2 separate regions of the Homo sapiens genome follow, and region 2 is linked to region 1. Evidence: fine-mapped expression QTL. Tissue or cell type: whole blood. Region 1 holds a variant in brackets; the other region holds the start of a gene. All regions are shown on one strand. Distances are from middle to middle.

Evidence for each region.
Region 2: STK4 starts here. The variant in region 1 is fine-mapped to the expression of STK4 in whole blood (INTERVAL, PIP above 0.99).

Annotation. Positions count from the first base shown.
Region 1 is chr20:44,985,784-44,990,177 of GRCh38, reverse strand. STK4 (serine/threonine kinase 4) reads right to left here. Exons shown (of 11, transcript NM_006282.5): 5 at 2,882-3,046. Among named protein-coding and RNA genes, the nearest start is that of STK4, 21 kb to the right of the region's middle. The variant G/A (reference allele first, on the strand shown) is at 1,979.
Region 2 is chr20:44,964,464-44,968,857 of GRCh38, reverse strand. STK4 (serine/threonine kinase 4) reads right to left here and starts at 2,346. Exons shown (of 11, transcript NM_006282.5): 1 at 2,255-2,346. The coding sequence starts at 2,289. STK4-DT (STK4 divergent transcript) reads left to right here and starts at 2,400. Exons shown (of 3, transcript NR_038341.1): 1 at 2,400-2,741; 2 at 3,173-3,296; 3 at 3,410-4,394. RefSeq lists silencers at 462-591, 2,272-2,521 and an enhancer at 1,052-1,131.

The DNA.
Region 1 (4,394 bases):
CTTATATTCATAGATCGGAAGACAATATTGCCAAAATGGCAGTATTTTCAAGCTGATTTACGATTCAAAATAATGTCTACCAAAATCCCAACGGCCTTTTCTGCAGAAATTGACAAGCTGATCCTAAAATTTATGTGGAAATACAAGGGACCCAGAATAGCCAAAACAATCTTGAAATAGAAGGACAAAGTTGGAACACTCACACTTAACCAACTTCAAAAATTACTTCAAACTTACAGTAATCAAGACAGCACAGAACTGGTGCAAGGACAGACATATAGGTCAATGGAATAGAATTGAAGGCATAGAAATAAACTCATACATTTCAACAAAGAAAAAACAGTCTTTTCAACAAATGTTGGAACAACTACATATCAACATATAAAAGAATGAAATTGGATGCCTATCTCACACCATGAAAACTAACTCAAAACAGATTACAGATCTAAACATAAGAGCTAGAACCATTAAACACTTCAAAGAAATCATAGGAGTAAATCTCCATGACCCTGCATTAGCTAATGATTTCTTAGATGTGACACCAGAAGCACAAGCAACAAAAGAAAAAAGAAACTGGACACGACCAAAATTTAAAAATTTTGTATTTCAAAGGACACCTTCAAGACAACCCACAGAATGAGAGAAAATATTTGCAAATCATGTACATAAGAGACTTATATCTAAAATATATAAAGAACTCTTAATTCAACAATAACAAGGTAAATAACCCAATTAAAAATGGGCAAAAGATTTAAATAGACATTTTCCCAAAGATACCCGAATGTCCAATAAGCAGAAAAAATGACAGTCGACATCACTAGTCATTAGTAAAATGCAAATCAAGACCACAAAGAGATACTGCCTCATACTCACTAGGATGGTTATAATCAAAAACACAAAAAAGAAAATGTTGGCGAGGATGCAGAGAAGTTGGAATTCTCATACATCAGCAGGGAACACAAAATGGTGAGCCACTTTGGAAAACAGTTTGGCAGTTCCTTAAAAAATTAAACACAGAGTTACCATGTGATCCAGCAACTCTGTGTATCACATGAAAACAACGGTTCACATAAAAACCTGTACACAAATTTCACAGTAGCATTATTCCTAACAGCCAAAAAGCAGAAACAATCTAAATATTCAACTAATGAATAAGTAAACAAAATGTGTTACAGCCACAATGGAATATTACTGAGCAATAAAAAGGAATGAAGAATTGATGCATGTTACAACATGGATGAACTCAAAAACATTATGTTAAACAAAAGAAGCCAGAAACAAAAGGGCACATTATGTATGATTCTATTTATATGAAATATTCAGAATATGCAAATCTATAGTGACAGAAAGTAGATTAGTGGTTGTCAAGGGCTGGGAAGAGAATGGGGACTAACAGCTAAAGGGTACAGTTTATTTTGAGGATGATGAAAATGTTCTGGAATTAGACATTGGCAATAGCTGCACAATTTTGTGAATATACTAAACACTGAATTGTACATATTAAAAGGGGAGAAAAATTCTGCCAAGGCAGGCATTATAGCAATAAGAACACTGTAAGTCATTATTGGGTAATCAATCAATTACTAAAATTAGTAAATGGAATGGATACATATATATATATATATATATATATATATATATATACACACACACATATATATACACACACACATACATACATACACATTTTTTTTTTGAGATGGGGTCTCACTCTGTTGCCCAGGCTGGAGTGCAGAGTGCAATGGCGCAATCTCCCAGGTTCAGCCTCCCAAGTAGCTGAGATTACAGGCGTGCGCTACCATGTCCGGCTAATGTTTGTATTTTTAGTGGAGATGGGGTTTCACCATGTTGGCCAGGCTGGTCTCGAACTCCTAACCTCAAGTGATCCTCCCACCTTAGCCTCCCAAAGCGCTGGGATTACAGGCATAAGCCACTGCACCCGGCCAATATTATATTATTTTATAGACCATCAGAGGGT[G/A]TATTTTTTCAATTTGGTTTCCTGACTAAGACTGTGGTTTAGGTAATATTGTCTGGTACTGTTTACTTTTGTGTTAACAACAAAACCTTTTGGAGAGCCCACAAATCATGATACTGAATAAGGTTCTGATTTATTTTAAACATCAAAGCAATTTCTGTGCTGTTACAATACCTGAGGCTCCCTAACATGTCCCAGGCAGACTTATAATAAAAAAAAAATAATAAAAAAAAAACCGTACATAACACCAGTTCTAAACACACACTATATATATTCATTCTACCACCCAAGAAAACCACTTGATATGTAATATTTTTGCAAATTTTAGAGTATACCTGCCTAAAACTATTTCTATTTTTCTATATATACTTTCATATATACTTATGTAGAATCAAATAATTCTAGACTTCCTATTTTGAAAACAAGTTTTTTTTTTTCTTTTTTCACTTCCATGCACTAGTTAGGCAGGAGAAGAATCAAGAGACTGTATCCTGGACTCAAACGAACAGAGTGTTTTCAGTACAGTAACTGCCAAGTACTACCTGGAAGTTGAATGAGATGATGTTATGTCTTAGTCAAGGAAAGCAGTTTGGACTTAATTTTTCTTCCTCTTAATTTTTCTTCCTTTTATAAATATGTTGATGTAGTGCACTAGAGTAATCTATCATTTCTTGCTTTACTTTTCATCTTTATAAAAGTTGAACAAAGTTAAGCTATGTGACCTGAACCCCAGGAAAAGATCTAAAATAACCCACTAACTAGCTCTTTTGTAACCTATTGGCAGATTCTGTGATTTTTTACTAATACAATTAAGTCAAGTATTATATTTTAAAAATAGGTAAATAAAAGGAACTGCTTCTCAGGACAGAAATGAAAATTATCAATACAAGTAATATTTTTACTTACTGTAAGTTGACCTGCTACCCCAAAATCTGCAAGTTTTGCATGTCCTTCTGTATTTAGCAAAATATTTCCTGCCTTGATATCTCGGTGTATTTTTCTCATAAAATGAAGGTATTCAAGTCCCTTAAGAGTTGATTGTAATATTGTAGCTATTTCATCTTCTGTTAACTGAAAAAAGAATAAGAAGTTCAAATTCTATCAGTTTACATCAGCGCATTAGAAAAAGGAGAAAAAATCAGATCCAAACCTTTCTTTAATATAAACAGATCTTATTCAACCTGTGAACAGCATTTGACTGCTTATACCATAGATACACTGACCACTCCCAAGGCTATATTTCCATACCAGATCTCCCCTCAATCAGATTTATGTATCTCCAACTAGAATACCTAGCCAGCATCATAAGCATAACATGTCAAAATCAAACTCTATGTCTATCACCTTACCCCTCTCCCTCTGATCCTTCCAACCTACTCCACTTCTCCCACAGTCCTCCCTCTCTCAGTAAAAGGAAACTTTATTCTTTCAGTTGCTCTGGTCAAAAACCTTGAAGTCATCCTTGACTTTTCTCTATCTTCAAAACACTGTATATCCAAATACACCCTCTGTAATCACCATGGTCCAAGTCACCATCGTGTCCTGACTGCACTATTCTCATAATCTCCCGACTGGCTTCTTTGCTTCTGCTCTTGACACTCTACAATGTATTTTCCACACAGAAGCTATAATTAAAATGTAAGCCAGAGTCAAAACCTACCAATGTCTTCCTAACCCACTTAAAATAAAAGTCAGTCCTTACCAAGGCTTTACATGATCTGGCTCTCAGCTACCTCTTTAACTTCATCTTTTACCACTTTCTACCTTGCTCAATCTGTTTCAACAAGGGCTTGCTTCCTTGCTGTTCCTCAAACACTCTAAGCACACTCCCCTTTCTGGGACTTTTCAACTGCCTATTCTCTTCATCCTGATGTCTATCCAGTATGCTTCCTCAGTTTGTAATCTGCCCAAATATCACCTCCTCAGAAAATGGAGAGGGCTTTCTTACTCCATTTCTAGCTCATACTCTATTCCCTTAAATTACCTTGTCACTGCAGTATACTACCATCTGACATATTACCCATTATTTATCTATGTATGTGATATCATCCCTGTTAGAAACACAAGCTCCTAAAAATGTCTGATTTGTTTACTTTTGTTTCCCTAATACCAATAAAGCCACCTGGCACACAGTAGGCACTGAAAAAAATATCTGTTGAAAGTGAGAATGCTAGAAACTAGTATAGAATATCTGATCTGGCCAATATAGACTTTCTGCAGACCCAACACCAGTCCTAAACAAACTCAATCTATCAACAAACTGTTACATAGTTCCCCTTCTGACAAACAACTCAGATGTGAAATGGAGTGTGCTCTGGTGCAAAAACTGTAGGATTTGGGACTAGGAAGACGTAGCTTTTACTCTTGGCTCTACTTTCATGTGACTTAAGCAAGTTACTGACCTTCTCTTATTCTCTTA
Region 2 (4,394 bases), 21 kb after region 1:
GATAATAAAATTGATCTGCTTCAAATTAGGCAATCTACTAGTTACAATGAGCTGGGAATCACCAGCCACTTCAGAACCCAGTCCTGCAATGCTCTTCTCTTGTGCTTTTAATACATTTTTTAAAATCCAAAAGGTACAGGAATGAGCATGCCAAGAAACTTTAGTCCTTTGCTCAAGATTATGTAAGACAAGGCAAAGGGGGAAACAAAACTCAGATTCCTAATCCTCTTTTCAATTAAACCAAGGCCTCGGAGAAAGAAACCAAGAAGAACGAACGAACATAGTTCAGAAAGAAACATAACTAGTGTGCATTCATAATTGGATCACTATGGTACTATAGTAAATATCTGCTAACATACACAGAGACCTGTGAAACAGGGGTACTTTTAGAGAGGCATCAGAGTGAGGCAGTTAAGAGCATGGCCGGGCCCGGTGGCTCACGCCTGTAATCCCACCACTTTGAGAAGCCAAGGTGGGCGGATCACGAGGTCAGGAGATAGAGACCATCCTGGCTAACACGGTGAAACCCCGTCTCTACTAAAACTACAAAAAATTAGCCAGGCGTGGTGGCACGCACCTGTGGTCCCAGTTACACAGGAGGCTGAGGCAGGAGAATCGCTTGAACCCAGAAGGCGGAAGTAGCAGTGAGCCGAGATTGCGCCACTGCACTTCAGACTGGGCGACAGAGTGAGACTCCGTCTCAAAAAAAAAAAAAGAACATGGACTTTGGACCAGACCCCATAGACATTAAAATCCTAGCTCTGTCTCTTACTTGCTATGACTTCTCCCAGCAAATCACTACCCTCTGTATCTCAGTTTTATCATCTGTAAAACAGACATATAGGGATATCTACCACACAGGATTGTTGTGAGGTTCAAATGAGTTCAAATGAGGTTTTTATGGTTCAAAAATGGTCAAATATCAGCAATTTCATATGCTTCAGCAGGACACATGGAAAGCACTTAGAACAGTGCCTGGCACCCGGTAAGTGCAATATGAGTGTAATAATCATTACTATTACAGTCTCAGCACACTACGCTAGGGTGAATCCAAAGCCCATCCCAACCACCTATTTGCCTTCTGCAATGTTTGTGCACCTCAAACATCCCCAAGCTCAAACAACCCCTAAGAGTGCTGCCCAGGCAGTCAATCCCTTCTCTTCACCTCTTGGTTGCCCTGCACTTCCACACCCTGAACACTTCCTTCTTTAGAGCTCATTCTGCTGCAGGAAGTCAGACGTCTCTGTGAAATAGAAGTAACCACACTGAACCTCAGAGAAGCATGACTCCTTCGGTCTCTAGTCCCTACTTTTCTCCAGATGTGGTAGAGTGGCAAAAGACCCGGGATGTCCACAAGGGAAATCCAGGAGTTGAGATTTTCTAGGATCAGCCACCATCCTGATCTTGAACTAAAGCAATTCCAGGTACCACTAGGATTTGGTGCTGATATTCACAAAACAACTGAGGCCTGAAAAGGGCACAGACTGGCAGGGTTCAGTGACCCGGAGTAAAGAAGGAAACACTTCCCAACTACTCTGGACCTCAGTCTCCCCATCTCGAAAATATCCTCTTATTTCCTTACCTACCTCCCAATGTCAGGTTCTGAAGAGCTGAGGAGGATGTGAAGACCATTAGGAAGACACTGAACATCAGTAATAAAAGATGCCATCCTACAGTGGGGACACCACCAACAGCATCCTCTGAAATGCTACCCTCCACCATCCCCTCCCTTGCTAGACCCTCAACCTTTCCTCGCATGCTTTCAGCCTTAGGCGCAAAGCTTTTCCCCTCCACAGATCCCCCCACCGCACCCCTCAAGTGGGACTTCAGACCCTTAGAAAGTCCACCCGGCCTTCCTCTTGGCCAGTTCTCGATCCACCCCCTTAAAGAGATCCCTCACAGATTCTCACCCTGCTTCAGCATTCGCCCCCACCTCCGTGAGTCCCTGCTTGGATAGCGTTCCCCCGAGTGGCCCGGCCTCAGCAGGTACTCTCCCTAACTTGTCCCCACGTTCCTCAGCACAGTCTCACCACAGCGAGTGCTCCCTCTAACCGGTCCCAAGTCTAACCTCCTTAGCAGATGCTCCCCTCAGCCGGACCCTCACCCACCAGACGTCCCCCCCCTCACTCAGCAGGTGCCCCATCGGCTGGGTCGCTTAGCTCCGGGGACTCCCACACAGGTGTATCCCCTCAACCAGTTCCCGCCTTTTCTTCCCCTGACCCCATGCCCGTCCTCTTAGCCAGTGGCCCCTCACCGGCGCGGCGGGTTCCTCAGCTGTACCGTCTCCATGGCGCTGCCAGCAGCCGCCCAGACCCGCTCACTGCTCCATCCTCCCGCGGACCTCCTGAGCCCGCCCCGCAGACCCTCCCACACTTCCGCTTTCCGCCCCTACCGGAAGCGGCGCGCGGCGCGGGAGCGGGGCGGAGCCACGGCCCTGATCACGTGGTTCGGGCGTGAGTCTTGTGGCGCGGTGGGGCGCGGACCCGGAACCGCCAAGTGGTGAAGGCGCCTCCAGGCGGTGCCCGCTGGTCTCTAGAGTGTCAGTGGCGCTGTCTTCCTGCGTTACCGGAGCGCACAAAATACTCGGTCCCCAGGCCGAGAACGCACCTCTACCTGGGTCCTGGGTCCCATTTCACAGACTGAGATGCGTGAAGCGCCTCCTTTAGAAGAGCTGACAATTCTTAGCAAACCAAGTTTTGCGTGATTTTGGGGAGGCGGCGCTGCCCCAGGAACGCCTGGAGGTATTTGTGGTTTTCTGCCGCTTACCTGGTTGAACTCTGGTCCCAACGGGCCCCCTGCACATTTTCTCCTACAATGCATCAACGCGCAAATTGCCCCACTGTCTTTCTTAAAGGCCTCCCCTTTAAGTCAGTTTGCAGACATAAAAATAAGCAACATTAATTAAGCATTTGCCGTGTACTTGTCTTCATATATTATCTCATTTAATCCCCTGTGTCAAGCCGATAAGGTCATCCCCGTTTTTATTTATTTAATGATTTAACACAGTCCCTAAACGTTTTCAGTGCTTTACCTCATTTAATACTCCTAACAACCTAGACGGTATTATTATTATTCCTACTTCATAAGGCCAGAGAGGTGAAGTATCTAGCCCAAGGTCACATAGCTTAGAGTATAGGTTTGGGGATTTAAATCCAGTTTGGTCTGATTTCAGGGCCTGCACCACCAAACTGGACAGCCATGGGTGTGTAACCTCTTTTTGGGCCTGAGAAACAGACCTTTCTCTCCACTCAGAGCTCCGGCTTCAGCTATTGTGCTTCCGAATGCCACTACCATCAGTAAGTATTAGGAAAATGGCAGATTCTACCCAATTGACCCATGGGGAAAGTTATAGGAGAAAACTTAACCAGAGCAACCTCTCACTGTTTTTAATTGCCTTGCTTTTCCCAAGGATATGCCATCTACAGAACTTAACACCTGAGCACCCACCCTTCAGGGCCACCCATGGGCCCAAAACGGGATAAAGGAGCCATTCCCTGACATAGGAGGAAAACATTTGCTGAGAAGCTACTGTGTGCCAGACACAATCTTGGACTTTCACTTAATCCTCAAAACAGCCCTAGGAAGAAGTACCTACCGTTAACAGATAAGAAAGCTGAGACCCACGGTTTACACAGCTAAGGAGAGCAAAGGTTTTAACCCAGGACTGTCCTGACTCCACAACATCAAAGTTGTTGTTTTGTTTTTGGTGTTTTGTAGAAACAGGATCTCCCTATTATTACCCAGGCTGGTCTCAAACTCCTGGGCTGCAGCAGTCCTCCCACCTCGGCCTCCCAGAGTGCTGGGATTACAGGCAAGAGCCACCACACCTGGCTGATGAATAGGAATTGGGTAAACATTTTTGAAAATTAAATACCAAATTACCATTACACAATGCCAAACAGACCTCCTTTGTCCCCTTCCCAGGATTTTTCCAGAAGATGGACTCACATTATGATGGCCCCCTTTTTCCGCAGAGTGTTCCCAATGAAAATTTCTGAAATGATGGGAATGTTCTAAATATGTGCTGTCCGAAATAGTAACCATTAGCCACATATGGCTATTGAGCACTTTAAATGTGGCTAGCATAACTGAAAGGCCACATTTTTATTTAAATTTAAATTTAAATAGCAAACCGTGGCTAATCATAATAATAGCTTAAGAGAGAAATGGTGAGCAGGGTTACTGGGAGAGGTATTTTCCTATAAGCTCTGGATATACAGTTGACCTGGGAACAACAAGGGTTTGAGCTGCATGGGTCCACCAATACAACCCTTGTTTTGTTTTGTTTTGTTTTCAATAAATACAGTCAGCCCTCTCTATCAGAGGGTTCCACATCCACAATGAAACATGGTTGGAAAATACAGTATGGGATGTGAAACCTGTGTATAGGGTGG